3 linked regions of the Homo sapiens genome follow. The main gene of each other region encodes a partner of the protein of the gene in region 2 in a complex. Each region holds a gene or a part of one and is shown on either strand. Other genes may lie near its edges. The genes, in order: NSMCE2, NSMCE4A and NSMCE1.

Evidence for each region.
Region 1: NSMCE4A (region 2) and NSMCE2 share a complex: the UniProt entries of both Homo sapiens proteins name them as parts of the SMC5-SMC6 complex.
Region 3: NSMCE4A (region 2) and NSMCE1 share a complex: the UniProt entries of both Homo sapiens proteins name them as parts of the SMC5-SMC6 complex.

What each region holds. Positions count from the first base shown.
Region 1 is NC_000008.11:125,359,388-125,369,187, forward strand, and holds the end of NSMCE2 (E3 SUMO-protein ligase NSE2), read left to right. Parts: intron 1-2,669; coding exon of another isoform or gene 2,670-2,730; exon of another isoform or gene 2,731-4,167; intron 4,168-7,380; coding exon 7,381-7,498; 3' UTR 7,499-7,733; downstream 7,734-9,800. UniProt on the Homo sapiens protein: E3 SUMO-protein ligase component of the SMC5-SMC6 complex, a complex involved in DNA double-strand break repair by homologous recombination. Is not be required for the stability of the complex.
Region 2 is NC_000010.11:121,970,667-121,981,008, forward strand, and holds the start of NSMCE4A (non-structural maintenance of chromosomes element 4 homolog A), read right to left. Parts: upstream 4,552-10,342; 5' UTR 4,500-4,551; coding exon 4,208-4,499; exon of another isoform or gene 4,201-4,207; intron 4,140-4,200; exon of another isoform or gene 3,640-4,139; intron 3,416-3,639; coding exon 3,338-3,415; intron 3,164-3,337; exon of another isoform or gene 2,857-3,163; intron 404-2,856; coding exon 273-403; intron 1-272. UniProt on the Homo sapiens protein: Component of the SMC5-SMC6 complex, a complex involved in DNA double-strand breaks by homologous recombination. The complex may promote sister chromatid homologous recombination by recruiting the SMC1-SMC3 cohesin complex to double-strand breaks.
Region 3 is NC_000016.10:27,229,730-27,239,768, forward strand, and holds part of NSMCE1 (non-structural maintenance of chromosomes element 1 homolog), read right to left. Parts: intron 5,571-10,039; coding exon 5,449-5,570; intron 4,537-5,448; coding exon 4,459-4,536; intron 3,419-4,458; coding exon 3,272-3,418; intron 1-3,271. UniProt on the Homo sapiens protein: RING-type zinc finger-containing E3 ubiquitin ligase that assembles with melanoma antigen protein (MAGE) to catalyze the direct transfer of ubiquitin from E2 ubiquitin-conjugating enzyme to a specific substrate.

The sequences.
Region 1 (9,800 bases), on a different chromosome or scaffold from region 2:
CAATGGCGTGATCTCAGCTTACCACAACCTCCGTCTCCCAGGTTCAAGTGATTCTCCTGCCTCAGCCTCCTGAATAGCTGGTATTACAGGCATGCACCACCACGCCCAGCTAATTTTGTATTTTTAGTAGAGATGGGGTTTCTCCATGTTGGCCAGGCTGGTCTCAAACTCCCGAGCTCAGGTGATCTGCCCGCTTCGGCCTCCCAAAGTGTTGGGATTACAGGCATGAGCCATCGCGCCCAGCCATGGCATGCTTTCATTAGTTTCCTTATCCATAAATGAATGACAATCGTTGTAATCACCTCATTGGCATATTTGAAATTTAAATAAGATACATGCAAAGTACTTAAAGTAGCTGGTACACAGTAGGGCTCAGTAAAATTATCCCATCATCATCTTCAAACTTGAGCCACTATCAACATCCTCTTCGTTTTTTTCCACCATTGCTCTATAGGCATGGGAGACGAGGACAGTTTTAAAGGAGTAAGATGAGCCAACCTGGAGTTTAGGAAGTTACTCCAATAGCAATGCAGAGATGGATTAAGGAGGCATGAGGCAAAAAAAAGTCAGTTAGGATGCTTTTACAGTGGTTTAAGTTATAGAAAATTAGAGTATAGAGATACAAGAGTGATTGTGGAGGTACAGTTAACGACATTTGACGACTGACTGAATGTAAGAGAAAGGAAGAAGCAGCGAGGGGTGGCTGACATTTCTCATCTGGGTGTCTAATACTGTCATTTGCTCATTAGCCTCCAGAGAAGGCATGAGAGAGGAACACTCTTATTGGAGGATTGTGATAGACTCAGCTCAGGTCATCCTAAATGCAAGGTCCCAGCAATACAGCCCCGTGGAAGTGTCCAGGAAGTGCAGCAAGTGTGAGTTTTGCAGTCAGGGGAGGACTCAGAACTATCGATGTGGATTGGGAGGTTATCAGTATAGACGAGTCAACCCGCTCAACTACCGTCACAGATGCAGCTCTGGAACAAATGCATTCACCAGCAGAGAGCCAGCAAGGCAGGACCCGCACCTCGCCTGTGATCTCCACAAGGCCAGAGCCCGACTTCGTTCTGCTCACTGTGATGCCTTAGCACCCTGGTGCCAACCCTCAAAAAACACTTTGTTGACCAATGAGAGGATCAATCAGCGGAAGAAGACCCCTAAAAAAGCAGTCTAAAATATAGCCAGGAGCCAGGAAGAGTGATAAGGAGTGGAGGCTCATGGGAACTTGTGGGCGGGGTGGGCAGGGTTCTGAAGGCCAGGTGCATTTGGGCAGCAGTAGATTAGAACTCAGGGCCTTCTTGAAACCAACTCCAGAAGTTTCTGATGAAGCATGAAGTCGTATCATTTCCCATGATGCACATTAGAGTGATGAGTATTTCTGGGTTCGCTTTGTTTAGAAATGTCCATGACACATTGTCTCATTTCTTCCTCCTAGATTGTTCTAGTTATGTTTGTTTTTTTAGACTGGAGTTCCAGGTCCATTGTGTTCTGGGCACTGCCTGAATTTTACTGTGCAAGCTTCAGGCCCTGGGAAGGCCTCTCTGCACTGGCTTGAGTCAGAATAATATTGTTGAGACTTTAGCCCCAGCCAAGCACGGTAGTTAGAATAATTTCCTAAAATATATCTGTTAACAATAAGCCTATTTATTCTCTTAAAAATAAAGCTGCCTTATGATTTCCTTTTTTTTTTTTTCGTTTCTTTTTTCTTTTCCTTTTTTTTTTGAGACAGAGTCTCACTCTGTCTCCCAGGCTGGAGTACAACCTCTGCCTCCCAGGTTCAAGCAATTCTCGTGCCTCAGCCTCCCAAGTAGCTGTGATTACAGGCACATGCCATCACACCTGGCTAATTTTTGTATTTTTAGTAGAGACAGGGTTTCACCATGTTGTCCAGGCTGGTCTCGAACTCCTGGCCTCAAGTGATCTGCCCACCTTGGCCTCCCAACCTTATGATTTTCATATATTAATATTTCTAACCTGACCACAGTCACTTTTTTGCTTTTTTGTTTGAGAACAGGAAACATATTTTTAAAAGTCATATTTAAGAGCATGTAGAATAAAATGAAATTGAATAGAAATGGGTCATTCGACAGCAGAACTCCAGCTTTGTGCTTGGAATTCCTGTTTCAACACTTACCAACAAGCCATTCAACCTTTCTGCCTCAGTTTCCTCATCTGTAAAGTGGAAATAACATCAGCATCTCACAGCACTTCAGGGGCCAAAGAAATGGTAGGGAATTCCATTCTAGGTCTGGACCAGCACATTTCTTGGCAGAAGAGTAGCAAAAGCACTTAGTTGAAAGCTCTTTTGGGAGCGAAGAGCGCTAAACAAATAGCTGTAGGGTTGTTAAGACCGAGGCTGATAGAGTTGTTATCACTCCCCGTGCTGCTTAGTGACACATTATTTGACTCAGGGGTTGTAAGATAGAATTACTGTCTGTGTTGAGGTATGACAGGAATCCCTCCCACTCAGATTTCCAGAGGTCTCTATAGACCTTCTGTCTATAGCTTGTAGACTAAACCTTGGAATTCTTGGGACCCAGATCCAGGAACTCCCAGAATCATGTACTTTTGAGCATTTGCAGAGGCCAAGGTTCCCCACAGCTCTGTGGGACCCCAAGACCCGGTTCCCTTTGCTCAGCAGTCACCTTTGTGTTTGCCCTGTGCTGCAGCGAAATGCTCTGCCCGGGTAGTGCCTGGAGGTGGGGACCCAGCCGCTCCTGCGAGGCCTGAAGGGCTGACTCCTGCACAGCGATGATGCGGCAGCTGAAGATCGGGTATTGCCACACTGAACTCGCTCACCAAGATGTCGTGGGATTAATGCCGAATGCTTACGGAGACAGTTGTTTCTCCAGAGGAGGCATGCCTTGATTCAGCACTGTGGCATGATGGCCTTCTCTTATCCTTTCTGCTTTAAAAACTTGTGTTTATTGGAGACGAAGGAGAAACAAGGTCCTTCCCAGTTCCAGCATCAACCTCGCCTCCAGGAAGTCTTCCCTGAGCCCTTATTCATGCTGGACAAAATGTCGTTAGCACCCCATGTCATGCCAACATTGTCAGTGCAGCTGGCTCCTCTCCACGAGCTTCTTGAGAGCGGAAGCTGTGGACTAGGGCAGGGACTGGTGCACGGCAGGACCTGAAGTGAACTCCCCAGTCCTTGACACACATCAGCCTGCTTATTTCTCAGCCTTATTGGACAGGCTTGTCCTCTGCCTTCATGTTCTTAAAGGGAAAAACTGAGGCACAGAGAATTTAGTCACTTACCCAGAGTGACACAGCCAGGGGGTTTAAGCCCAGGTCTTTCTCATTCTTGAGCCTGCAATTCTGTCAGTAGGCCATCCAGCTCCCCTTGGGAGGGCTATTTGGTTCATGCCTCTACCATCAGAGTCTATCTCCTCAGTGAACTCAGACCTTGTTTGACATGGCTCACTCTGGGATCCATCCCACTGAAGTGAAGGTGGGCGCCTGCTCTGCAGCTGAGTGTGTGGTTAAGTCCATCAGACATTCTCAGCATGCTCTCATGCACTGACTAAAACCATGATGTCATCAGGAAGTCCTCCCCACCTCACTCTCCACTTCCCTCTCCACTGCTTATTCACTGTCTGGCTATGAAAGTTAAGGCCTTTGCTGGGTAGAATGGAAGAGACCAAGGCCAGGCAGTCCAAAGCAGATATTCAGGGTTATGTTTTAAGGGAGGGTCATCCCAGCAACCTACTTGGAGTTGCATTTCAATGTCATGGAAGCCAAAGTTATGATACTTGGCTTTTCTAGTCACAAAAGTGTCTGTATCCTCTTCATGATCTTAGCTGCTTTTTTTCATACTTACAGACATAATTCACCAGGCACGGTGGCTCATGCCTGTAATCCCAGCACTTTGGGAGGCCAAGGCAGGTGGATCACTTGAGCTCAGGAGTTCAGGACCAGCCTGGGAAACATGGTGAAACTCTGTCTCTACCAAAAATTTTTTAAAAATTAGCCAGGCGTGATATTGTGCACCTGTGGGCCCAGCTACTCAGGAGGCTGAGGTGGGAGGATTGCTTGAGCCTCAGAGGCAGAGGTCACAGTAAGCAGAGATAGTGCCACTCCAGTCTGGGTGACAGAATGAGACCCTGTCAAAAAAAGAAAGAGGAAAGAGGAGAGAAAGAAAGAAAGAAAGAAAGAGAGAGAGAGAGAGAGAGGGAGGGAGGGGGAGGAGGGAGGGAGGGAAGGAAGGAGAAAGGAGGAGGGGGAGGGAAGGAAAGAAGGAAGGAAGAAGAGAGGAGGAGGAAGGAGAAGAGAGGAGGGCGGGGAGGGAGGGAAGGAAGGAAGGCAGGAAGGAAGGAAGAAAGGAAGGAGAATTCGCTTTGAGACTTCACAGCGTAGGGGGACAGGCTGGGAAAAAAATACAGATTTTTAAACTAGTGTAAAACATTTCTCCAGCCTTGCCCTAATGCAAAGCCAAATCATCAAAATGATGCATACCTGGGCCAAATCACCCTGATCCTCTTTCATATAATTGCCTTTCTGTAATTATGATTTAACACATCATGTACCTGAGTATGTAGGGCACTTTTTTTTTGTTTGTTTTGTTTTGTTTTGAGACAGAGTCTTGCTCTGTTGCCCAGGCTGGAGTGCAATGGTGCAATCTTGGCTCACCGCAACCCCCACCTCCTGGATTCAAGTGATTTTCCTGCCTCAGCCTCACGAGTAGCTGGGATTACAGGCATGCGCCACCACGCCTGGCTAATTTTTGTATTTTTAGTAAAGATAGGGTTTCGCCATGTTGGCCAGGCTGGTCTCAAACTCCTGACCTCATGTGATCCACCTGCCTCGGCCTCCCAAAGTGCTGAAATTACAGGTGTGAGCCACCGTGCCTGGCCATATTTTAATATTTTAAAAATAAATACTGTTATTAAGCATATTATATTTCATTGATTAATACCCCTCTAATGTAAAAACTCCTTGATCCACAGATCAGGGCCAAGAAATACTTTCTTTCATGTTGGACTGTTGGGCTTCCTACCACTAGACAAATTGGAGCTCCCATGACCAACTTTCTTTCCTTCTGGTTTGCATCTTTACTGTGGTTTGCACATTTGTTGTTTTTGGTCTTAATATCCTGTGCTTTATGGAGAGCTGTCTCAGATCACTGGGCCAGAGCTCTGTGTGGGCAGGAACCATGTATTTGTATTTCACAGTTGCATGCTTAGAACCTAGCATAGGGCTGATCCCTAGAAGAGTCAATTAATGCATGAATGGGTGCATGCCTGTGTGGGATATATGCAAGATAGAAATAGATCCAGAACTTTAAAACTTCTTGGAAGAATGATGATGAGGGAACACATGATAGTCACAGGGGATCTGGAAGGGAATTAACATTATTGAGCACAGAGGATCTGGGAGGGAATTAACAGTATTGACTGTCACCTTGGGAAATAAGGGTTCTCTCCCCATTTTAACTCAGAGGCAAGGGAGGCTCAAGAGGGTTATTGTGAATTGCCTGTGGTCTCATAACTAGCAAGTAGGTGGTAGAGAGAAAATTCAGACCTAGGTTAGCTTGACTCCAAACATTGGGCCTCTAATCTACCAAAATTTGGTTCACTTTGAGAACCAGATTCTTTGAGAAGAAATAGGTGGTTTCATCCAGCCCACTGCCCTCAGAGAAGACCACATCGAAGCAGAGCCGTGGCTTGTTTCCACCCCTTTGTGGGTGACTCACTGATGTCTTTAGCTGCAGCCTTTCCACCGAGTCCCAGTGGCCCACTCAGTCTCTCTTCTAGGAGGGCTACTGGGCATCCATTCCAGAGGAAACAGATACCAACCAGGACTGTGGTTCTGTGCTGCAGCCTGTTTTGCCCCATCGTTTCCCACTGTGATGAAGGGCACTACCAGTCACTGATCTACCCAGATGAAGCTCGCTTCTTCCCTTTCGCTTATGCTCCACAGCCACTCCATCGGCAAGTCCTATAGGTTCTATGGTCAAGCATGTCCTGAAGCTGATCGCCATACCACCCTCAGCCGAGCTGCCCTCACCTCTCTCCTGCACCCTGCAGGATCCCCCATGCTATTTTCCCTGCCCTTCTCTTACCTCCCTGTTTTGTATTCTCCATAAGCAGCCAGAGTAACATTTTCCAGATGTAAACCAAACACACTCCTCACCCATCTCAAAACCTTCCAGTGTTTTGTCTTCATATTTAAAATAAAATCCAAGTCCAGGCACGGTGGCTCATGCCTGTAATCCCAGCACTTTGGGAGGCCGAGGCAGGTGGATCACTTGAGGTCAGGAGTTCGAGACCAGCCTGGCCAACATGGTGAAACCCCATCTCTACTAAAAATACACAAAATTAGCCAGGCATGGTGGCAGGCGCCTGTAATCCCAGCTACTCAGGAGGCTGATGCAGGAGAATTGCTTGAACCCAGGAGGCGGAAGTTGCAGTGAGCTGAGATCACGCCACTGCACCCCAGCCTGGGTGAAAGAGTGAGACTCCATCTCAAAATAAATAAATTAATTAAATTAAATAAACTCCAAAGCCCCATTGGCGCACTGACCTCACTTCCAACTGCTCTCCCTCTTGCCTGGGTCGCTGCAGCCACATAGAGCTTGCTGTCACTCCAGGGCACCAAGCTGGAACGTCCTCAGCACTGCACTTGCTACTGCCTCAGCCCAGACCACATGCAGACTTGTTCCCACGCTTCATTCTGGGTCCTGCCCTAGATAAGATGTGTTCGGTGAGGCATGCCCTGAGTCCAGCCAGTGAAGCTGTGGCCCCAGCACTCTCTCTCCCTGACCCTGCTTTGTTGCCCTCATAGCCCATAAGGTGACCTGAACTTGCAGCAAGCATTTATTTGGTTCCCTAGTGGTTGCCTGTCTTCCTCATTAGAAAGATAGCTCATAGGCTGGGCGCGGTGGCTCACGCCGGTAATCCCAGCACTTTGGGAGGCCGAGGCGGGCGGATCACGAGGTCAGGAGATCGAGACCATCCTGGCTAACACGGTGAAACCCTGACTCTATTAAAAATACCAAAAATTAGCCGGGCGTGGTGGTGGGTGCCTGTAGTCCCAGCTACTCGGGAGGCTGAGGCAGGAGAATGGTGTGAACCCGGGAGGCGGAGCTTGCAGTGAGCCAGGATCGTGCCACTGCACTCCAGACTCCGTCTCAGAAAAAAAAAAGAAAGTTAGCTCATGATAAGGCAGGCACTACTCACATATCGCTTGTGTCCCCAGCACCCAGACAGGGCCTGGCTCAGGTAGGGACTCAGTGAATAAATGAATGAGCACAGCTTGGTCCTGATTTTGACACTTTTCCTTTTTCAGTAAAATGCCTTACTTAAACACTTGAGTATAAAAGAAGTTTCTGCTTAAGGCAGTAAAGGGGACTGACTTGATGTTCTTTCTTTCTCACAGTTGCCCTCAAATTGGCTGTAGCCACACGGATATAAGAAAGTCAGATCTTATCCAGGATGAAGCACTTAGAAGGGCAATTGAGAACCATAACAAGAAAAGACATCGTCATTCCGAGTAGGAAAAGCCACCTGCCTGCAGGGACACCAGCAGCCTACCTCCTACCCCAGCTGTCTGTTGAGAGCAGTGCTGACCCCAGCAGTTAGGGACTGGCTGCATAGCATACTTGTTGGGGGTAAAACTTGTTGCTTTTATGTGTGCTTGAAAACATTTTTCAAAGTTACACAACAGAAATGCAATCATATTGTTTATTTTTAAGTGTTCTATAATGTTAAATAAAACTTTGATCATCTGCAGTGTCCTCCCTGCATGCCTCCTGATGTATGGATTGTTCCAGAGGTGCAGGCTTTTCCATTTCAAGGACATCAGACTGATTTTTATAATAGTTTTGACTAAAGAATGTCTTTCAGCCAGGTGCAGTGGCTCATGCCTGTAATCCCAGCACTTTGGGAAGCCGACGTGGGCAGATCACTTGAGGTCAGGAGTTCAAGACCAGCCGGGGCAACATGGTGAAACTCCGTCTCTACCAAAAATCCAGAAATTATCCAGGTGTGGTGGTGCGCACCTGTAATCCTAGCTACTCGGGAGGCTGAGGCAGGAGAATCACTTGAACCCAGGAGGCAGAGGTTGCAGTGAGCCGAGATCGCACCACTGCACTCCAGCCTGGGCGACAGAGCAAGCCTCTAAAAAAAAAAAAAAAAAAAAAAAAAAAAAAAAAAAAAAGAATGTCTTTCAAGTGATATTTGAAATTGAAACATATAAAAACACCCCTATTGGGAGGCATTTTCTATGAGTATAGTAAATAATAGCATTTGGTTATAAAGCAAAGTCAGTTTACTTTCTTGTATTTACATTGTATATTGACAGTTCCAAACATATAAATGCTTTTATTGTCATTCTGAATGGAATAGAATGCTCCAGTGACTGGCTAATCAGTGCATTGCAGTGATGATTGATGCCTATAATGAATACTTTGCTGCAGCCCTCCAAGAGCCTAAAGTACCATCAACAGTAACCACATTCCAGCTGCTCTCTGTTTTTCTAGATGGTTCACTGCAAGTGACTTCATCCCTCTGGATGTTGGTGTCTTCAGCCATAAAGTGAAGGTGTTCAACAAGATGCTCTCTAATGTCTCTAATCAACAAGATGCTCCCTAATGTCCTGTGACCCCTGAGAGTCTATGGACTGACACCAGCAGGGTCTTTAAATTGAATGTCTTCAATTATATTCTAATTGTGTGATGAGCACCAATCTATTGTCTCCATTAGCAACCTTTTATCAACCTTACTATTTAATTAAACCAAATTTGAAGCATACCCTGATGGCACTGGAAAACCAAGAATAGCTAATAATAGCTAACATTTATTGAGTACTTATTTACTGTATACCAGGTGCTATTCTAAGTGCTTTACATTATATTAACTCCTATAATCTTCATAGCCCAGTGAGAGAAGGACAGTTCTTACAGATAAGGAAAAGTAGGCACAGAGAAGCGAAGTCACCCATGGAAAGTCAGAGATGGAACTAGGAAATGGCTGAGCTGGGACCAGAATCTGGAGAGCCCAGTCCTAAAATCTCCATTCTTAACTCCATACTCTCCTCCTCCCTATTGACATAATTTAGAAAATGAAAATATATTCGAAGCCCACATTTAGAACCAAAGCTTTTGTAAATAAGTGTGTGTGTGTGTGTGTGTGTGTGTGTGTGTGTGTGTGTGTGTGTACAAAAAGTCTAATTAAAATGGAGGCCTATGCAGGAGGATCACTCGAGCCCAGGAGTTTGAGACCAGCCTGGGCAAGATGGCAAGACCTCATCTCTATTAAAAAAGAAATAAGGCCGGGCACAGTGGTTCACACCTGTAATTTCAGCACTTTGGGAGGCCAAGGTGGGTGGATCATCTGAGGTCAAGAGTTCAAGACCAATTTGGCCAACATGGCAAAACCTCATCTCTACTAAAAATACAAAATTGGCCGGGCACAGTGGCTCAAGCCTGTAATCTCAGCACTTTGGGAGGCCGAGGTGGGCAGATCACGAGGTCAGGAGTTCAAGACCAGCCTTGCCAACATGGTGAAACCCTGTCTCTACTAAAAATGCAAAAATTAGCCTTGGTGTGAGCCTGTAATCCCAGCTACTCAGGAAGCTGACATATGAAAATTGCTTGAACCTGGGAGGCAGAGGTTGCAGTGAGCCAAGATCATGCCACTGCACTCCAGCCTGGGCAATAGAGCTCTGTCTCAAAAAAAAAAAGACCCACCCCCATAATTCAGTCACCTCCCACTGGGTTCCCCCAATGACGTCTGAGAATTTTAGGAGTTACAATTCATGATAAGATTTGGGTGGGGACACAGCCAAACCATATCATT
Region 2 (10,342 bases):
AGTGAACAGAGGAAAAATGGCCATTGGCAAATGACCATAGCACCCAGCATCTTAAGACAGAATGCTACGAGATTTTTACTCCAAGCCCCCACCCAAGATTCCACCACATGGTTCTACTTTCGTCTGTTTAAATTGGTAAGATCTCTACAGAGGAATCTGAGACCAAAAAAGAAGAATGAAGTGAAATCATCTGCATATGGATATGAGCACAGTAAATAATTATAATATATAACAGAACATTTTTTATTCAGAGTCTGTAGCTTTGAACTTACTAGAGTTTCAACATATCTTAACATGTCAAAGGAGCTCAGGTCTGAGCGCAGCTGCTTTGCTTTCTCTTTGCCCAAATCTGAAGCCAAAACAAGAAAGTGGGCATCCAGGACTGCTTCTCTTGCTCGGGACACTATTCAAAAAAGAAAGAAAATATTCACATTACAAAATACACATTATCCATAGACTTTTTCCCTACATTTCCAACTACTTACCAGGATTTCCCACTGGACTAAAAAAAAAAAAAAATCTCAATAGGCAACTGACACATCTCCTTCTAAAACGTGCTCCTGGCCAGGTGCGGTGGCTCAAGCCTGTAATCCCAGCACTTTGGGAGGCCAAGGCGGGCGGATCACGAGGTCAGGAGATCGAGACCATCCTGGCTAACACGGTGAAACCCCAGCTCTACTAAAAATACAAAAAATTAGCAGGGCGTGGTGGCGGGCGCCTGTAGTCCCAGCTACTTGGGAGGCTGAGGCAGAATGGCGTGAACCCGGGAGGCAGAGCTTGCAGTAAGCCAAGATCGCGCCACTGCACTCCAGCCTGGGTGTCAGAGCAAGAGGCTGTCTCAAAACAAAAACAAAAACAAAAAAAAACTTTCTCCTGTGCCCAACTCACCAAAATCTCTAATGAAAGCTGACCAGTCTTCCTAAAAGCCAGCTTTCTGTCTAGTTCTCCTACTGTTAGCTGAATCACAATCTCTTAAATAACTCCAGTTGAGCAAAACCCGTCATGTCTAATACTCACTTTTCCCTCCATCCTAATCACGATGATCATGTGTGCTGACGTAAGGAAAATCAAATTCCCACTACATGTAGGGCCCTGTGCTTGGCATGGTGGTTTGTGAACAGCAATAGGTAAGCTGCTAAGCAATAGGTAAGTTGCTAAAGTTGCTAACCAAAATCATGGCATGTGCTAGGCTGGCACTAGGAGGCTCATGCCTCTGTATGGCTTCACAGGCAACCCCAGCAAAGCCACCCAAATGAACAGTCTACAGGTAGCAGGTAGTGACCCGAGGACGGATACTCAAAAAAGGCTTGACAGAGGACATGGGATTTAAGAAAAGCTATGGAAAAAAAAGATTTAAATTAATGCAGAAACAGGCTGGGCACAGCAGCTCATGCCTGTAATCCCTACACTTTGGGAAGCCGAGGCAGGCGGATCACTTTGAGCTCCAAAGTTTGAGACCAGCCTGGGCAACGTGGTGAAACCCCATCTCTACTAAAGAATCAAAAATTAGCTGGGCATGGTGGTGCACACCTGTAATCCCAGCTACTCGGGTGGCTGAAGCTGGAGAATAGCTTTAACCTGGGGGGGGCAGAGGTTGCAGTGAGCCAAGATCATGCCACTGCACTCCAGCCTGGGCGACAGGTGTAGGTGTTCCCAGACTATTTTTCATACTCTCTGTTGCCTGCAGGGTCTGATTAAGCAACCCCCTCAGCCCCGCTGTTTCCTTTTGTTGATCCCTTCTTTATCTCCCATGAGTATCCTGTGCCTGCCTGCCCCACTCCCTTCCCCTTTCATTTATTTATTTATTTTACAAACTGAGACCATCAAATCCATGAATGCCAGCATCTGTTGTTTGCTGAGCAACTCCTAGGGCTCCAATGAGTGAATAATTTTGCTCTAAAATATTGCTTTAAATACTGGAAATAGCTGAGGGGGGAATGATGTGGGGATAAAGAACTGACTAGATGCACAGTAAATATCAAGGGAGTAATTGAGTCAAGTCAAGCAAGACTAACAGTAAGGAGACTGGGAGTCCAGGCTGCGAAGGGAAGACAAAACTTAAGAGGGTAGTAGAGGGATTTAACCAGGTGAAGGAGAAACACCCGGTTCCTGAAGGTTTTGATGAGAGTTAGCAAATGCGGTAGACTAAGATGGGGAATGGTAAGGAGGCTGTGGTCAAAGAAATTGGAGAGCATATATAAAGTGATAAAAGGAGACATTTAAAGAACTAGTCATCCTCAGCAATGACTAAAAATATACGTTCTAGTCCTTTAAGAATATGAGGAACCAGCCGGGGGCGGTGGCTCATGCCTGTAATCCCAGCACTGTGGGAGGCGGAGGCAGGTGGATTACCTGAGGTCAGGAGTTCGAGACCAGCCTGGCCAACATGGCGAAACCCGTCTCTACTAAAAATACAAAAATTAGCTGGGTGTGATGGAGCACACCTGTAATCCCAGCTACTCGGGACGCTGAGGTAGGAGAATTGCTTGAACCTGGGAGGTGGAGGTTGCAGTGAGCCGAGATTGTGCTACTGCACTCCAGCCTGGGCAACAGAGACTCCATCTCAAACCTCAAAAAAAAAAAAAAAAAGGATATATTTGGCTGCATTCTCCCCTATGTTCCCACAGACCCGTCAGAGAGGGCTGGAGGGGACAGTGGTCTGGGTAGTAGTCCTGTGGCTCTATGACCAAGTACCCACATCAGGGAGTACCCCTCTGTCACCAAGCAGACAGACAGCTGCTACCAATACCACTGCCTCTGCTTTCAATTCAAACTAAGGTTATTTTTTAAAGCACCCATGGCCTAGAGTTCAGTGCTCTGGGATCTCTCTCACTCACTCACTCACACACAACACACCCCAGACTGGAGACCAGCAGGTACACTTGCAGGCTTTGCCACCTCCATTGTGTTACACGTGGACCAATAGCAGGGAGCTGAGGAAGGCAAAACAGAATGGGACAGGAAAAGAAACAGGATTTCAGAGGCTAGCTCAGTTCTGTAATTCATCCACTCAACCAATGTATACTAGGGATACGGCAGTAAACACAAGAAAAAGAAACAAGATAACACATGTAACGTTCTCAAACTTGAAGAGGCAACAGAATCAACTGGGGGCTTAACACAGACTGCGGAACCTACCCCCAAATTTTCATGTAAAGCCCTTATTATATGGTAAGTGCATAATAAAAATGGCATTATTGCTATAATGAAACGGTTCCCGAACTGGGAAAGCACTATTACAAATGTGGGAATTGTTTTATGTCAATAATTTGGCGCTTATGTAACACTAATTAAAAGTATCATAAAACACGAAATAACATATAAAATAACAAATTACCTTCATTAAACAGAGTGTTAGCCTCTTCAAGGACCTCTGTTAATTTGTCACCGGCATTCAGTATGTCCTCACGGTTTTCTATTTTTAAAAATACAAACTTTGGGAAATTTGTTCAGCATTCACTAATAAGCAGTTGACAAGGTTATCACCTGCAACAGTAAAGCCAAGCCCCGGCCCCTGCGCTCTGAGTAATTACTTCGAACATCTTTATCTTTTTAACCAAAATGACCCGGAAAAGGAGAAAGGCCACCCTACCCTTTATGCAGCATGAATTTTAAAAGGAAACCCTAGCTCCCTCTAACCTTAACCCAAAGGGCTGGACTCCGGCTGCAGCCTCTGAGTGCTCCATAACTGAGTGGTTCTCAAACTTTGCAAGCAATACACACCATCACCTGGAGGGCCACTCCACAGTTGCGCGGACCCACCCAGAGATTCGAATTCCGCGGGTCCGGGTGGGGTCCGAGAACGTGCATTTGACAGCTCTCGCGTGCCGCTGCAGCTGCAGCTGCCGCTGCGAGGCCGGGAGCCCACGCCGAGGACTGCCGGGCGCAATCAAAGCACGCGGAGTCCGCGTCCTGCCTCTCCCCACTGGCTGGCTGGGCTCGGGCGAGTCCGCGAACGGCTCTGGCCTCCAGCTTTTCCAGCCCGCCACTCGGGGACCCGCGCCAAGGTCGTACGGCTCCAGCCACAAAGTGGGAGCACTTTGTCAACAATTTAAGGTGCGGCGAGGGGCTGGCACCCGGCGCGTCTCTACTAACGCCGCGCCGGGCCTCCGCCCGGCACCTGCCTCCGGTGCCCTCCCCCCGCGCCCGGCGCAGGGCGGGGACAGCGGCCCGTCCGGGCCCGCGCCGCCCGGAGGCGCCGCCTTACGTTGGACGGAGTTGATGAGCGCCCGGTACTGATGGCGGATCTGGCGGCACAGGCCTTGGTCGGCCTCCGCCTCCAAGCTGGCCGGGTCCATCATCTCGTCCCCGGAATCCGACGGCTCTGTGTCCTCCAGGCTCGGGCGCTCTGGGGCCTCTCTGCGCTCCCGCGCAGAGCCGCGGCGGGACCTGGGCGACAAAGGGGACCGCGAGCGGGAGCGGGAGCGGGTGCGATCCCGATGCGGGTCGCGGCCCCGGCCCCGGCCCTCTGGCCCGCGGCCGCTGCTGTCCCCAGACATAGCGCCAATTCACCGTGCAACTTCGGAACGGCGGAAGTTCGCGCCAGAAACTGAAACCCCTGCTCTGCGCCAGCGCCTGCTCCCGGCGGAACGCGGCTCCCGGGCCCGCGCGAGCGCACAGCGACGCCTGTGGCTGGAGGCCGGCGACGGGCCCGGCCGGGTCTCCAAGGCGCCTGGGGGGACCGCTGGGTGCACAAGAGGGGCCTGGCGGGGATCCTTTGTTCCCTTGACAAGAGGTGTAATGAGCTCTTACTCCACACTGCAGGGCTGTGAGAATCTTGGTTTTCTGCCCCTACTTTCCCACCCTCCTGGACCTGCATCTTCCCTAGGTCCCTTTGCCTGCCCAGGACACAGCCGCAGCCTGGCACCCACATGGGCACGCAGTCCATGTGTGTTGAACGAGCTTCCTGCTGTGGAGCAGGATGAGCGCGGGATGTGGAGTCCAGACGCGGTCTGCTGCTCACCTGCGACCTCAGTTTCCCTGTGCCATCATGGCTGGGGTCGGGGGGGTGGGGAACAGGGGTGGGTGGATGAATCAAATATTTATGTGCAGCTGGCAATACCATTTTTTGTGAGGATAGCAGAACAAATTAACAGGTAAACATCCTTCTAAATATCTACAACAGAATGTCACCAGAGCACCAGGGTTTTGTTCTAGGACCCGCTGCCCCCTCACAGAAATCACTGAGAAAACCATTATTACCAAGGAAGAAGGCTTTAGTAGGGTGCTGCACTCAGGGAGTTGGAAGCTCAGTCTCAAATCCATTGCCCTGACCAACTAAAATTAAGGGTTTATACAGTTGCAGGGAAGCAATGTAACAATGTATGGGAAAAGAGGAACTCGGGAGGGGGAAGGAAGCTATGGGGATGCATGAGGGGCTTGGCATCTCATTGTCTGGAATGCGGTGATATGGCGAGTTTCAGTTTTTTGATACTTTTTGAGAGGCTCTGGAGGTCCTTTCCTGAGGAAGGAACTCAGATAAAACAAAGGTAAGTTTCAACCTTAAGACTAGAAATGATAATTTCTAAGTTTATTAAAAAAATAGTAAACAGTCTATGGGATTGTTGGGTTGATTTTAATGACAGTCTATGTTCACATTTGATTTTTTTTTTTTTTTTAAGACCTTGCTCTGCCGAGGCTGGAGTACAGTGGCACTATCTTGGCTCACTGCAACCCCATCTCCTGACCTCAAGTGATCCGCCCACCTCGGCCTCCCTAAGTACTGGGATTACAAGCATGGGCCACCAGGCACAGCCTGATTCTGATTCTCAAACTAGAAGATTCTAAGAATACCTCCTGAAGGGCCCAAGAAAGATGGAATTATGTTAAGTATACTTTGAAAGATAAATGTATGAATTTCACTCCGTGCATTTTGGATTGTATTCGAGTATTGTTTCCCAAAAGTTGTCTTTGGTGCTAAGAACACATTTTCTCAAAAGACCAATATTATAAGTTGGGTTATTACACAACCTACAAATATTCCATTTTGTGCATCATGTCTACTAAACTTAAGTTAGGCACTGTTCATTGCTGTCCAACAGCTACTACCTCACCCATCCCTGCTTATCTGTATTTCCTGAAGGGGACGTGTGTGCCTACTTCCTTAGATGAAACGTGATCACTCTAACCAGGTCACGGTAATGTCATTCCCCTTCCCCAGTGACTGGTCAAGGGTCATGTGATGCAACCTGGGTCCGTGAGATGTGAAAGGGTTTCCCAACTGGATGGAATACAAACCTTCCTGAAAAGAAAACCCTTGACCCCCTACCCCCTTTGAGATGGCTGGCATAAGAAATGGGGAACCTGCCAATTAGCGGGCATAATGGTGCGTGTCTGTAATCCCAGCTAATCGGGAGGCTGAGGCAAGAGAACTGCTTGAAGCTGGGAGGTGGAGGTTGCAGTGAGCAGAGATCGCGCCATTGCACTCCAGCCTGGGTGACAAGAATGAAACAACGTCTGAAAGAAAAAATGTGGAGCCTGCCATATTGGCAGCATCTGGTACTCACGAGGTGACAAGCATGAGGAAAGACTAGAGTGCTGGAGACACTGGAGAGCAAAGATGGACATGGCTGAATTGCTGAATCAACCACATGCCTCCAGACTCCCTGTAAAGTAAGCCATAAATCATGGTTTAAACCAGGTCATTGTTTCATAGTTGTTGCTTGTAGCTCAGTGTTCTGTAATGGAATACTTAGCGTTCTTCCAGGTGAAAGTGTGTCCAGAATTGGTGGGTTCTTGGTCTCACTGACTTCAGGAATGAAGCCGCGGACCCTCGCAGTGAGTGTTACAGTTCTTAAAGGTGATGTGTCCGGAGTTTTTTCCTTATGATGTTCAGATGTGTTCGCAGTTTCTTCTTTCTGGTGGGTTCGTGGTCTCACTCGCTCAGGAGTGAAGCTGCAGACCTTCACGGTGAGTGTTACAGCTCTTAATGCGGCGTGTCTGGAGTTGTTCGTTCCTCCCGGTGGGTTTGTGGTATTGCTGGCCTCAGAAATGAAGCTGCAGACCTTCACAGTGAGTGTTACAACTCATAAAAGCAGTGCAGACCCAAAGCGTGAACAGCAGCAAGATTTATTGCAAAGAGCGAAAAAATAAAGCTTCCACAGTGTGCAAAGTGAGCTGAGTGGGTTACTACTACTGGCTAGGGCAGCCTGCTTTTATTCTCTTATCTGGCCCCACCCACATCCTGCTGATTGGTCAATTTTACAGAGAGCCGATGGGTCTGTTTTACAGAGAGCTGATTGGTCCATTTTGACAGGGTGCTGATTGGTGCGTTTACAATCCCTGAGCTAGACACAAAAGTTCTCCACCTGTCCACTAGATTAGCTAGATACAGAGTGCTGATTGGTGTATTTACAAACCCTGAGCTAGACACAGAGTGCTGATTGGTGCATTTACAAACCTTGAGCTAGATACAGAGTGCCGATTGGTGTATTTACAATCCCTTAGCTAGACATAAACGTTCGCCAAGTCCCCACCAAATCAGCTAGACACAGAGCGCAGATTGGTGCATTTACAAACCTTGAGCTAGACACAGAGTGCTGATTGGTGCATTTACAAAGCTTGAGCTAGATACAGAGTGCTGATTGGTGTATTCACAATCTCTTAGCTAGACATAAAGGTTCTCCAAGTCCCCGCTAGACTCAGGAGCCCAGCTGGCTTCACCCAGTGGATCCCGCACCAGGGTGGCTGGTGGAGCTGCCTGCCAGTCCCTCGCCCTGCACCCCACTTCTCAGCCTTTGGGCAGTTGATGGGATCGGGCACCCTGGAGCAGGGGGCGGCGCTCATCGGGGAGGCTCGGGCCACGCTGGAGCCCACGGTGGCAGGGGGAGGCTCAGGCATGGCGGGTTGCAGGTCCTGAGTCCTGCCCTGCGGGGAGGCAGCTAAGGCCCGCCGAGAAATGGAGCACAGCGCTGGTGGGCTGGCACTGTTGGGGGACCCCGCGAACCCACCACAGCTGCGGGCCCAGGTGCTAAGCCCCTCACTGCCCAGGGCAGCCGGCCACTCCCGAGTGCGGGCCTGCCAAGCCCACGCCCACAGGGAACTCTAGCTGGCCCGCAAGCACAGCGTGCAGCCCCGGTTCCCCCCGTGCCTCTCCCTCCACACCTCCCCGCAGGCTGAGAGAGCCGGCTCTGGCCTCGGTCCCAGGAAGTGGCTCCCACAGCGCAGCGGCGGGCTGAAGGGCTCCTTAAGCCGGCCAGAGTGGGCGCTGAGGCCGAGGAGGTGCCAAGAGCGAGCGAGGGCTGCCAGCACGCTGTCACCTCTCAAAAGTTCATTCCAAGCTCCACACAAAAATACCTGAAATAGGCCAGGTGCAGTGGCTCACGCCTGTAATCCCTGCACTGTGGGAGGCCAAGGTGGGTGGATCACCCAAGGTCAGGAGTTCAAGACCAGCCTGGCCAACATGATGAAACCCCCGTCTGTACTAAAAATACGAAAAATTAGCCAGGCGTGGTGGTGGGCGCCTGTAATCCCAGCTACTCAGGAGGCTAAGGCAGGAGAATCACTTGAACCTGGGAGGCGAAGTTTGCAGTGAGCCGAGATCATGCCACTGCACTCCAGCCTGGGTGACAGGAGCAAAACTCCATCTCAAAAAACAAACAATGACAACAACAACAAAAAAACCCTGAAATAACTCATTCAATTCAAAAGTATTTGAGGGAGGGCCGGGCGCGGTGACTCATGCCTGTAATCCCAGCACTTTGGGAGGCCGAGGAGGGTGGATCATGAGGTCAAGAGATCGAGACCATCCTGGCCAACATGGTGAAACCCCATCTCTACTAAAAATACAAAAAATTAGCTGGGCATGGTGACGTGCGCCTGTAGTCTCAGCTACTCAGGAGGCTGAGGCAGGAGAATTGCTTGAACCGGGGAGGCGGAGGTTGCAGTGAGCCAAGATGGTGCACCACTGCACTCCAGCCTGGTGACAGAGTGAGACTCCATCTCTAAATAAATAAATAAATAAAAATATTTGAGGTGTACTCATAGGCTAGACACCCTACAAAGCACAGCAGGGCACACAGATAATTCAGGTACTTGCCTTTGCCTTCCAGGGTATCACCAGAAGACAGGCATTAAACTGATTCTAAAATTCATGTGGGGAGCCAGGTGTGGTGGCTCATACCTGTAATCCCTGCACTTTGGGAGGCCAAGGCAGGTGGATCACTAGAGGCCAGGAGTTTGACACTAACTTGGACAACAAAGCAAGACCCTGTCTCTACAAAGTATATATAAATCAACATTAGCCAGGCATGGTGGTGCACACCTACAGTCCCACTGACTCAGGAGGTAGAAACAGGATGATCGCTTGAGCCCAGGAATTTGATGCTGCAGTGAGCTATGATCATGCCACTGCACTCCAGCATGGATGACAGAGCAAGACCTTGTTTAAAAAAAAAAAAAATTATATGGAAATGCAAGGGACCCAGAATAGCCAAAACAATCTTGAAAAAGAAGGACAAATTTGGCAGGATTCAGACTTCTTAATTTCAAGACTTAATACAAAGCTGTATAATCAAAACTGTGTGGTATTGTCATAAGGATAGACATATAGATCAAAGGAATGGAATTGAAAGTCCAGACATATCATTTATGGTTAACTGATTTTCTTTTCTTTTCTTTTTTTTTCGAGGCAGAGTCTCTCTCTGCTGCCAGGCTGGAGTGCAGTGGCACAGTCTTGGCTCACTGCAACCACCGCCTCCCAGGTTCAAGTAATTCTCTTGCCTCAGCCTCCTGAGTAGCTGGGACCTCAGGCGCGTGCCACCATGCCCAGCTAATTTTTGTATTTTTAGTAGAGACAGAGTTTCACCCTGTTGGCCAGGATGGTCTCGATCTCTTCACCTCGTGACCCGCCCGCCTCAGCCTCCCAAAGTGCTGGGATTACAGGCATGCACCACCACACCCAGCTGATTAACTGATTTTCAACCAGGGTGCCAAGACAATAGGAAAATAATAGTCTTTTCAACAAATGGTAGTGGGACAATTGGATATCTGTAGGCAAAGGAGTGAAGCTAGACCCTTCCTTCACATCATATATAAACATTAACACAGAATGGATTGGACCTAAATGTAAGCTAATACTATAAAACTCTTAGAAGAACACATAGCTGTAAATCTTTGTGGCCTTGGGTTAGGTGATAGTTTTTTTTTTAGATATGACACCAAAAGCATCAGCAACCAAAAGATAAAAAAAGATGAACTGTAGGCAAATTTGGGATAATTTGTTACAGCAGCCATAGGAAACAAATCCAGGTACCCAGGATGAGCAACCATGGGAAGATATTACTACTCCAAGGCCTAGAGGGTCTGAAGGAAGAAGCAGTGTTATCAGAGCCCCATGAAGACT
Region 3 (10,039 bases), on a different chromosome or scaffold from region 2:
CCACACCCAGCTAACTTTTTTATATTTTTAGTAGAGACAGGGTTTCACCATATCGGCCAGGCTGGTCTCAAACTCCTGACTTCAAGTGATCTACCCGCCTTGGCCTCCCAAAATGCTGGAATTACAGGTTTGAGCCACTGCACCCAGCCAAGCTGCATTTACTGAACACCTGCTATGTGCCTGAAACTGCACCCAAGGCTCACCATTCATGACCCACTCAGTCCTCTGAGGGCCCATCAGGGGAGGGGCAGGAGGGATGCCCTAGCCCTCAAAGACGACGACAGCCCAGGTGATCTCCCAGGCGCCTCGCCACAACACTTGGAAGTCAGGACCTCGTGTAGGGAGCAGTCCTGGGGTGTATGGAGGTGCGCCGATCAGCAGACGCCCAGCTCCCATGAGCCGCGCTTGCTCTCAGAGGCCTCCCCGCTGACCCCAACCACCTACCACCCCTGGGCCTTCTCCTGGACGGACAGCTGCCTCAGCACCTCCATGCCGGGCCAGTCTCACACAGGACTGGCTGTCCAGGAGTGACGTGTCCTTGGGGTGATATACCCACCTGGAAGGGCCTTGTCAGTGGGCCCCTGGCTATTTCTGTGGGAAGCCCTGTGTCTGAGAGGCCAAGGATCAGACACTGACATGTGGTCTCTCTGATCGAGGTGCTGCCCTAGGAAGACCTGTCCTGGGTAAGTGAGCACCCGCCCCGGTTCTCAGTGATTCCTCCAGAGTGCCGCAGACCTCAAGGCAACCCTTACCAGGCCATGTAGGTCAGAGAGCACTGGACCCTCACAGAAAACACCTGGAGCTGGCAATGTCCCCATCCTGCAGATGAGGAAACAGTCTCCGCAACGAGAAGCTGCTCACCACAGGCAGCGGAGGAACCTGGAGGAGTCTCACCACACAGCCCCTGCCACATTAGCTTCGTTCCTTCGTCCTCCTGAGGGCCCCAGCAGGCCAGGCAGTCAACAAGAAGCCTCTCTAGGGCTACTGCCCAGCGCCAGTGCTGAGGGCCCCCTGCTACTTCTGCAGCGCTCCTGCAGGTGGCAGCTCCCGGATCCTCTGTCCACCCTCCCTCGAGCTCAGAGGCGCCCTGCAGAAGGTGGTGCCAGCACTGCCACCGAACTGAGAAAGGCACAGAGTACAAGCGCCTGCAGCCACAGCTCACCGCCACAGACTCCAGGGCGGGGCCTCTCCTATCCACCACCGCCCTCTCCAGACACCAAGGGCAGACAAAGGGCAAGTCAAACCATAAAGCTGGGGGCACGCCCTGCAAGCCATGCACAATGGTGGCAGCATGTGCTAGGCATGGTGCTCTTGGGTGCAAAGCAGGGTGCAAAGTGTTGTGTACTGGGATGTTGGGGCACTCGGCTCTAGGGTCTGGGATAACAGGTGACTTCAGTGGGTTTCTTTATGCATCTCAACATGTTCTAATCCTCCTGTAATGAGCAGATATTTCCTGTAACATTTTTTGTAAGTTTTAAATGCTGTTCCTCTGCAACCTCATCCACCTGTCCAGTCATCCATTCAGCAAGCATTTATTGAGCAGTTGAGGTGCCAGGCACTACATTCTGCAATGGGGACCAGCCATGAAGAGGTCATAACCCCTACCCTTAAAAAACTTGGCCTGTGGCCGGGCACGCTGGCTCACGCCTGTCATCCCAGCACTTTGGGAGGCTGAGGCAGGCGGATCACCTGAGGTCAGGAGTTCGAGACCAGCCTGGTCAACATGGAGGAACCCCGTCTCTACTAAAAATAGAAAAATTAGCCGGGTGTGATGGCGCATGCTTGTGATTCCAGCTACTTGGGAGGCTGAGGCAGGAGAATCGCTTGAATCCGGGAGGTTGAGGTTGCGGTGAGCCAAGATTGCACCATTGCACTCCAGCCTGGGCAACAAGAGCAAAACTCCATCTTAAAAAAAAAAAAAAAATTGGCCTGAAGAGGGGCTGCACCACAAGCGAGAATGGTCAGTTATAACCTGAGTAGCCCTAGAACATTCCCTAGTGCCAAATACAGCCTGGAGGGCAAGAACAACTGTGACAAAGCCATTGATGGGAGCTGCAGTCCCCAAACCGGGGCCTGAACTCGGCCCTGCCACTCTCAGGGTGTCCGACGTCATCCAGACCCCTGAGCTGTCAGCTAAAAACTAAGCTATGGAGCCACTGCAGGGCAGCAGACAGCCTCCAAGACATGACATACGGGAACGCGCCCAGCAGATCCTGCACTCACCAGGAGCTCCCAGCCCTGCCCTCACCCCATGACCTCTCCACCCTGTCTTCCCATCAGGTACCCCAGGAACTGAATTCGGGTCAGGTTCCTGGGACAGGCCCACCCTAAATAGAAATCAGTAACTCAGAACACAGACTTCCCCAACCCAGACGCGAGCCTTCCTGAAAAGGAAGCGGAGAATCGCTGCAGCCACAAGCAGCAGCCTCTGGCCACGAGTCCGACCACCAAGTGAGGAAGCGGGGACCCGGCGTGAGTGCGTCCTCAACACACATGGGCACAAGCACCTGGGAGGCACAGCTGTGGTCAACTCGGCAAACACTGAGCTGTTGAAAACAGGGGTGCCTTTTGTGGAAAAAGAACTGAAACATTTGTTCTGCTCCATTCAGCAGGACTAGACGTGGGGGTGGGGGCAACATCTAGAAACTGGAGCTGCAGTGGGGCCTGTCCCAGATGTCACAGCTCCTTTCCTGAAGCAGGTCTATGCCTCTTCTAAGCACTGGCCCTGAGGAACTCACTGCTGACAAAAACAACAGTGGTAATGTCACCAATTCCTCTGCCGCCTCCCCCGCGAGCCAGCCAGCCTAGCACCGAGCACATTACTGTGAGGTCCCATTCCCGCTCCTGACACACCCAGCCCCGAAGGGGAAACAACGACTCCCCTCTTACAAGGAACATGAGGTCACCTGGCTCAGGGTTCAGACCCGGGTTAGATGTTAGAGCCACACTCTCAGCCACGGAACTGCCCTGCCTTGCAGTCTGTGGGCTAGAGCCTTGATCCTGGGGCCCAAGTCCCTGGGCGCGGCTCCTGGCTCTGCCATTCTGGCTGTGGCATCCTGAACACATCATCTGGGTGAACGGGGAGTGGGAGGCAGGAGGAGTGAGGCCCAAGTCCTCCCCACGGGGTCACTGCTGGAATGCATGAAAGCAGATAAGGGATCCGAGAAGGCCGGGCTCCTCAGACATCAGTTGGCTACAAGTACGATTTTGGAGAAAAAACTGTTATTCACTTGAAAAAGTGAACCAGGCTGGAAAAACCATGAGACAGTACCTCAATCAGCCACTTGTTTTGAACAAACTTCTGCAGCACCTGCTCCGCTTCCTTCTTCCTCATCTTCTTGCCTTTAAGTTGATCAACCAGGTTCAATATGTTTGTGGAAGACGCAAAGCCGGTTTCTGAGTCAATAATCAGTTCCAGCTGGAAGAAAGAGCAGGTATCATGCTCATCTATTAAAATGGCAAAAATAACTTTTAAATGGTAATACCAAGTCTGGCAGAGGCACAGTAAAACCACTCAGATCACAGGCAGAACTGTACACTGGCATGGTATTCCGGGAAAACAATTTAATGTGCATCAAGAGCCAGGACTGTGCTCAGTTCTTTTGACTCAGAGGTCACTTCTATAACATCCTCCCAAATAAATCATCTTAATGTCCCCAAATCAAAGAGGGTCGCCTTGCCTCACGGCTGGCCTCGGAGGCAGTGAGAGAGAGACACGGCAGGCAGGAACCGCTGGGGAAGACAGGTTCCTGCACACGCAGGTGTGTGCTCAGCTCAGCACCTGCTCCTCAACCTTGGTGGCTAATAATCCCCAGGAGAAGATCTAAAAGGAATGATTCCACCGCCTGGTTCTCAGAGATTTGGATTCAACAGATCGTGAGTGGGGCTGAAATGTCTGAATTATTTTTCACCTCTGCAGTTATTATCATTGCATCTAGGCCTGAGAACCACTCTTAGCCATGTGTTTGAGCAGAAGGCTGAGCAAATAGCTCTGAAGCCTGGTAGAACAGTACCTGTCAAATGTGCACGTGCAAAGGATTCAGTGGGCACCTGGCAAAAATGCAGATTCGGACTCAGCAGTCTAGAGTGGGGACTGGGACCGGGCCTTTCTAACAAGCTCCCAGGCGATGCTGCTGCTGCTGCCTTTCCCAGATGGCACTTGGAGCAGCCAGGCAGGAACGCCTGTTACTACCAGTGAAGCCCTGCTCTTGCCCATCCAGTTGGGGCTCACACCTGGCCCAGCACTTCCTTCTCAGGCAGCCATGGGGACCCCCTGGCAGCTGTGAGTTCCAGATGGGTAGACAGTGACATCTCCCTGCAAAGCCTTTTCTCAGACAGCAATGGTGGCCCATGTCCCCCCAGTGATCCTTGAACACTGCAGTTGCCACTGCTAATGACGGAGACAGAACTTTCCCATAAGAAGCCCACCCAATGGGCAATGGGGATTACTCTACTTACAGCCTTTCTAAACAAATCCAGTTCATTCTCTGCAAAATCCGTAGCCATTTTGGAAATTGAAGTTGTAGCAAGATTCACCTAAGAAATAAGTCAGCACGACAGTCAGGCTGTGCTCTTTGCGTGTTGGTTAACGTGTCGCTGGCTCTCCCTCCCTCCCCTCCTCCATCTCTGGCCAGTCACTGAGCTCCTGTATCCAGGCACTGCGGGCCGCAGGGATGGATCTGTAACCAGGCGTATATTACAGACTTTATTCTTTAGCTCAGCCAACATGCTGGGCCCTCAGAAGTTTCAGAACTCCAAAGGGTGTGCAGTATTTTCCAAACTCAGATAAATTTGGGAGATTTGTCTGCATGTTAATGGAGCTTCAAATGCAAAAAAAGCACTGAGAAGTCTGATAGCAAGGAAATCTGCTTTGCCATGTCTGACCAGCATTTCCACAGTTCTTTGACTCTGTAATGTTTTTTTTCCAGGGAATTGAGTTTGGGCAACCCTGGACTAGAGTGCCCCTTTCTGAGTGTGAGCCTGGCTGGGAGCAGCCAGATGTCCTCTGACCAGCTGAGGTGTCTCCTAGCCAGGGATGGGGCATGTCAGCTTCCCACTCCTGTATTTCACCCTGGCTGTATTTCACTCCTGGCTCTGCCATTCTGGCTGTGGCATCCTGAACACATCACGTGGGTGAACGGGGAGTCGGCGGCAGGAGGGATGAGGCCCAAATCCCTACCTGTGAGAGTAAATCTGAAAACCACTGAAGGCCCCACCCACATGGCCTGCAATCCTTGACACTCCTACAGAGTTTCTTTTCATAGCTTCTATGTCTTATTCTAAATAAAAAACCATTTTCTCCCTTTATTCCTAATATTCTATACATTTGGAGTGACTTCTTTGCAAAGAACTGTCCAAAAGAGAAATCAAACCAAAGCAAACACAGGCTGCCTGGGCCCTGTTCCAGCTCCTCAAAAATGCCACTAGAGGGCTCTGCCGGGCACTCACCAACGCATAAATGGGTCTCCCATCATCTTCCGTGACTCCTCTCTTTATCTCAATATACAAGGACTCCAAGACACTGTTAATGTTGTTGATGAAGTCCTCCAACTTATCTACGGTGGCATTGCCTGGAAATAAACAGACCAAAAAAAGGGGGGTGACCAGGGGGCCTCATCAAAAAAATGTAGCTTGCTTGAATCATTCCATCCCATCTCAACGCAGGGGACAGCAACCCCAGACATGGGTGGAGGCTGCAGCCTCTTGGGTGAACGCCAATGCCACGTGGCTTCTTTCTTCCTGGAGTACTTGGAAGACAAACAGACAACAGATGGAGGGCGTTGTGAGGCAGGAGGGCCAGGGAGATGCTATCTGCAACCACGGAGGCTGCCGCGGGCTTCCTGTCTTTGCTCGCTGCCTCCTGATGAGAGTCCCAATCAGCACCTTCAGCGCATTACTCAATGATGTGCTCAGAGCCTGCGTGAGCTCCCGCCGCACAAACATCCTATCCCATCTCAGCCCTTCTATCGCATCCCCAGTGCCCCGCGAGAGGCCTCTGTCCCTGTATGTCCCCACACATCTTAGGTGGAGCTTTATTCCTTTCTCTTTTTATTCAATGTCGGGTTATCCTCACTTACATGCCAGGCTTGTGCTGGGTCCTGGGCTGGAACAGTAAGAATAACAACAAACGGGGTGAGAAGGGTGGCTTGCAGCGAGCCCTCAGCATGGAGAGGCCCTGTCCTGGGCACCTTTTGTCGTCATGAATCCACCCTCCAGCAGCTCTCTGGGCACAGGGGAAGAGGCTGAGACGCAGAGAGGTGAACTGACTCGCCCAGAGTTGCACCACAAGGCCGGGGCTTTGACTTCTCTGTCGCCCACCTCCCCTGGCCCTGCCAGCAGGATGCTCACAGCCCAGGGGCCACCATCCAGGTCCATCAGTCTGAGGAGGGGGCACCCACACTATTGCCGGGGGCTCAGCTGAGGAGGACAGAGAGGCTGCGGTGAGGACAGGAGCCCGTGGCCGGGGACAGCAGGGCCTTTCTCCTGTGGCACCAGGAAGCCTCTGAGCACTGGAAGCAGTGGAAGGACATGGCCAGCGTTGTGTCCCTTTTATGCTGTGAAACTTTTTTTTTTTTTTTTTTTTTTTTGAGACAGAGTCTTGCTCTCGCCCTGGCTGGAGTGCAGTAGCACAGTCTTGGCTCACTGCAACCTCCACCTCCCGGGTTCAAGCAGTTCTCCTGCCTTAGCCTCCCGAGGAGTTGAGATTACAGGCATGCACCACCACACCCAGCTAATTTTTGTATTTTTAGTAGAGATGGGGTTTTACCATGTTGGCCAGGCTGGTCTCGATCTCCTGACCTCAAGTGTTCCGCCCACCTCAGCTTCCCAAAGTGCTGGGATTATAGGCGTGAGCCACCACGCCCAGCTTGTGCTGTGAAACTTTTTAAAGCAAGAGTATGTATTATTGTTTTCACTACTGTTTTTATGTATTAAAATAAATAATTTCAAAAGATTCATGCCTTAGAAAATCATTCTGGAAAAAAAACTGCAAGAAAAAATGGACAATATGATACATTCATGTGTGAAACAAAAACAGAACCAATGAAACAGTCCCACAGGAAAAGGCCCAGCAGGTTACCCACTGGACTGACGACCAAGGCCATCGCCAGGAAGGGACTAAACGAAGGGTCATCACAGGGCACTCGTGCTGTATGTCTGTGTTTGATTTCTTATTAGACAGAGGCATTTCTAAGCTACCCGTACAACTCAAGATTCATAAAGTTAAAAAAAAAAACAACAGAAGATCATGCTGGTGACAATGGAGGATGTGGCCGTGTGAAAGAGTCAAGGAAAACCCAGGCCAATGAGCTCTGTCAGAGGATCAGACTGTGGGGCCCAGAAAAGCTGAGAACAAAGCCCAGGGCAGTGACACTAATGTGCCATGCTCAGCGAGGAGCTAATCTTCCCTTTCAGTTAAGTTTTTAAAAGGCAGTTTAAATTAAAAAGTAGTCATAGTAAGTGGGTGGAACATGGATGTGGTGAGATCGTAACATATGACAATGACATCTGGCCTCGGCGGCTGGAGAGCAGGCATCAGGAGGGAGGCATGGCCTGACTTCCTGCCTCCATGCCCCTGCTCACGGGCCCCTCCTTTCTGAAAACTCCTCTCCCTCCACTGCGGCAGCCACCTTGGATGGCCTGTTTTTCCAGGAAATGTTCTCTTCTGCCCCCGGTGCTGTCTTCCTCTTCCACAGCATGCAAGGCAGCTCTTTGCTGGCGTGGGAGCCGAGCTGTTCCGTACCTGCCTGTGCCAGTGACTTGGCCAGACACACTTTTCCACCCCCAAGGGGAGCCAACGCTGGGCAGCTCAGGTGCAAGAGGCCCAGACATCAAAAAGCCTCGTTCAGTGCGGAGTGAGTGACAGGAACCCTGTCCACCCAGTGTGACACTGGGGCAAGTCCCACCTCTCTGAAAGTGACAATTCACATTTTCCACTAACGAGGCCCCTCCTGGGTATCACTGAGAACAATGTGCCCTGTGGGCAGATGAGAAGCATTCTGATCTATTGGACTTTCCAGACACCCCGTTGCAGGGAGGGAGCCAGCAGCCCTCTCTGCCCTTCCCCTCTCCACACCACCTCTGGTTTGGCGTCCAGCCTCATTTTTCAGAAACCATGAATGTTTTGCTGTATTTTCATCTGACCAACCACTTCCTCCTACTGTACTCGCTCACTGCACACACCAGCCACTGCTTGGGCGCTCCCGTTCTCTCCGCTATCGCCCTCTTTCCTTCCACACGCTTCCTGCATCAGGGTCATGTCCACGATCTCCATCGCTGACCCTGTAACTGTTTCTCACGGAGGCCCCGCGCCCTTGCAGCTCCTCTTAATCGTGACCTGAGAAGAAACTTCTCTTACACTCAGCACCCCCAAACCCTTCAACTGACTCCTTTCAGCAGCAACAGAGGTGGCGTGGTGGCATGGGGCCAGAAGCAGAGGTGTGGGCTCTAGCCCATCCTGCCCTCCCGCTCTGTGGGGCCCTGCGTGAGCCTCTCCCCCACTTCTCATCTCTAACAGCCACACACAGTCTCGCCTCCAGCCTCACACATGTCCAGAACCCTCTTCCCTCCCGCTTCTCTACCACCACCCCTGGCTGGACCCCAGCCTCCTGATCCTCTGGCAGCCTCCCGTACAGGCCTTCCCCAACCAGATAAGCTGCACTTCCCAGCTCTGTCCTCCCATGGCAGCACTTCCTTCCTCATCACGTGGCACTCCAGTTACTGTGTCCAGCCGCCGCCCCAAGACAGGAGTCAGCTGGTGACACCTGCCAGCCCAGCAGCCATGTCCCTCCCTAACGAGACCTTCGCCTTTTTTCTTTTTTTTTTTTTACAATTGTCTTTCTCTTACATTTGCGGTTTTGGTGAGAGAATAATTCCAGGTATGATATTCAGGGAACCAGAAAGCAGAAAGCTGAAGGGACCAGAGATTAGGGCAGCCAGGAGTAGACAGAGAACCCCTATCAGCCAGACACTCTCCCAATCTGAGCAAGGGACAAAAGGAAGCTTGGAGGTGGCTCCAGCCCAGAAGCTACAGAGGGCCAGCTGCTCTGGCCATGAGGTGATGCCATGCTTCCTGCCTATCCCCAACTGTGCACCTGGCCACCAATGAGTCCTATGTGTCCCTCCCCCAATAGCATCCCGACACATTTTTTTTTTTTTTTGAGATGGAGTGTCACTCCATTGCCCAGGCTGGAGTGCAGTGGCACAGTCTCAGCTCACAGCAACCTCCACCTCCCAGGTTCAAGCGATCCTCCTGCCTCAGCCTCCCCAGGCACTGGGACTACAGGTGTTTCACCACCACACCTGGCTAATTTTTTGTATTTTTAGTAGAGATGGGATTTCACTATGTTGGCTGGTCTGGTCTCAAACTCCTGACCTCAAGTGATCTGCCCACCTGTCTCCCCAAGTTTTGGGATTACAGGCGTGAGCCACCGTGCCCAGCCCCGACACATTCCTTTCTAAGTTGACCAGAACTGGGGTCTCTTGCTTGCTCCCAAGATCCTTATGATGTCCACTAAGCGCTAAGGTTGCACCAGATCGCTGCTTCCCAGCCTCAGGTCTTCAGGACAGCTAATGTCCACAGCTCTGCCCCTGGTCTCTCCCCTGATCCAGGAGCCCTGGTGGAGAAGCTACAGTTTGCCAATCTGTAGGGATACACTGGGCTAAAGGCATGTCTGAGGATCCTTTTGACCTCAATATTCTACGAGCCCATGGTCATGATAAAGAGTGCGGAATAAAGTCCGTATGGTGAGATTCTGAGACAACTACTTTCAGTCTTAGAAATACCACTTTGAAGACTTAGGAGTTAATTAACAACACCACTCCTTTTCAGAATCCAGAACCAACTGAAGAAAAAGACACAACCTTCAGTAAATATCAAAACATCAGGTTTTCTGTAGGTAGCGCTGGATCAGAGGCTGGTTCTCTGCACACCACCAACCTCCAGTCAGTGATATGGGAGGCCCAGCTATGAGGACAGAGGAACGAGGCCCTGGCCCTAGCACAGATGTCTCCTCTAGAGGGAAAGAGATACCCTAGCCAG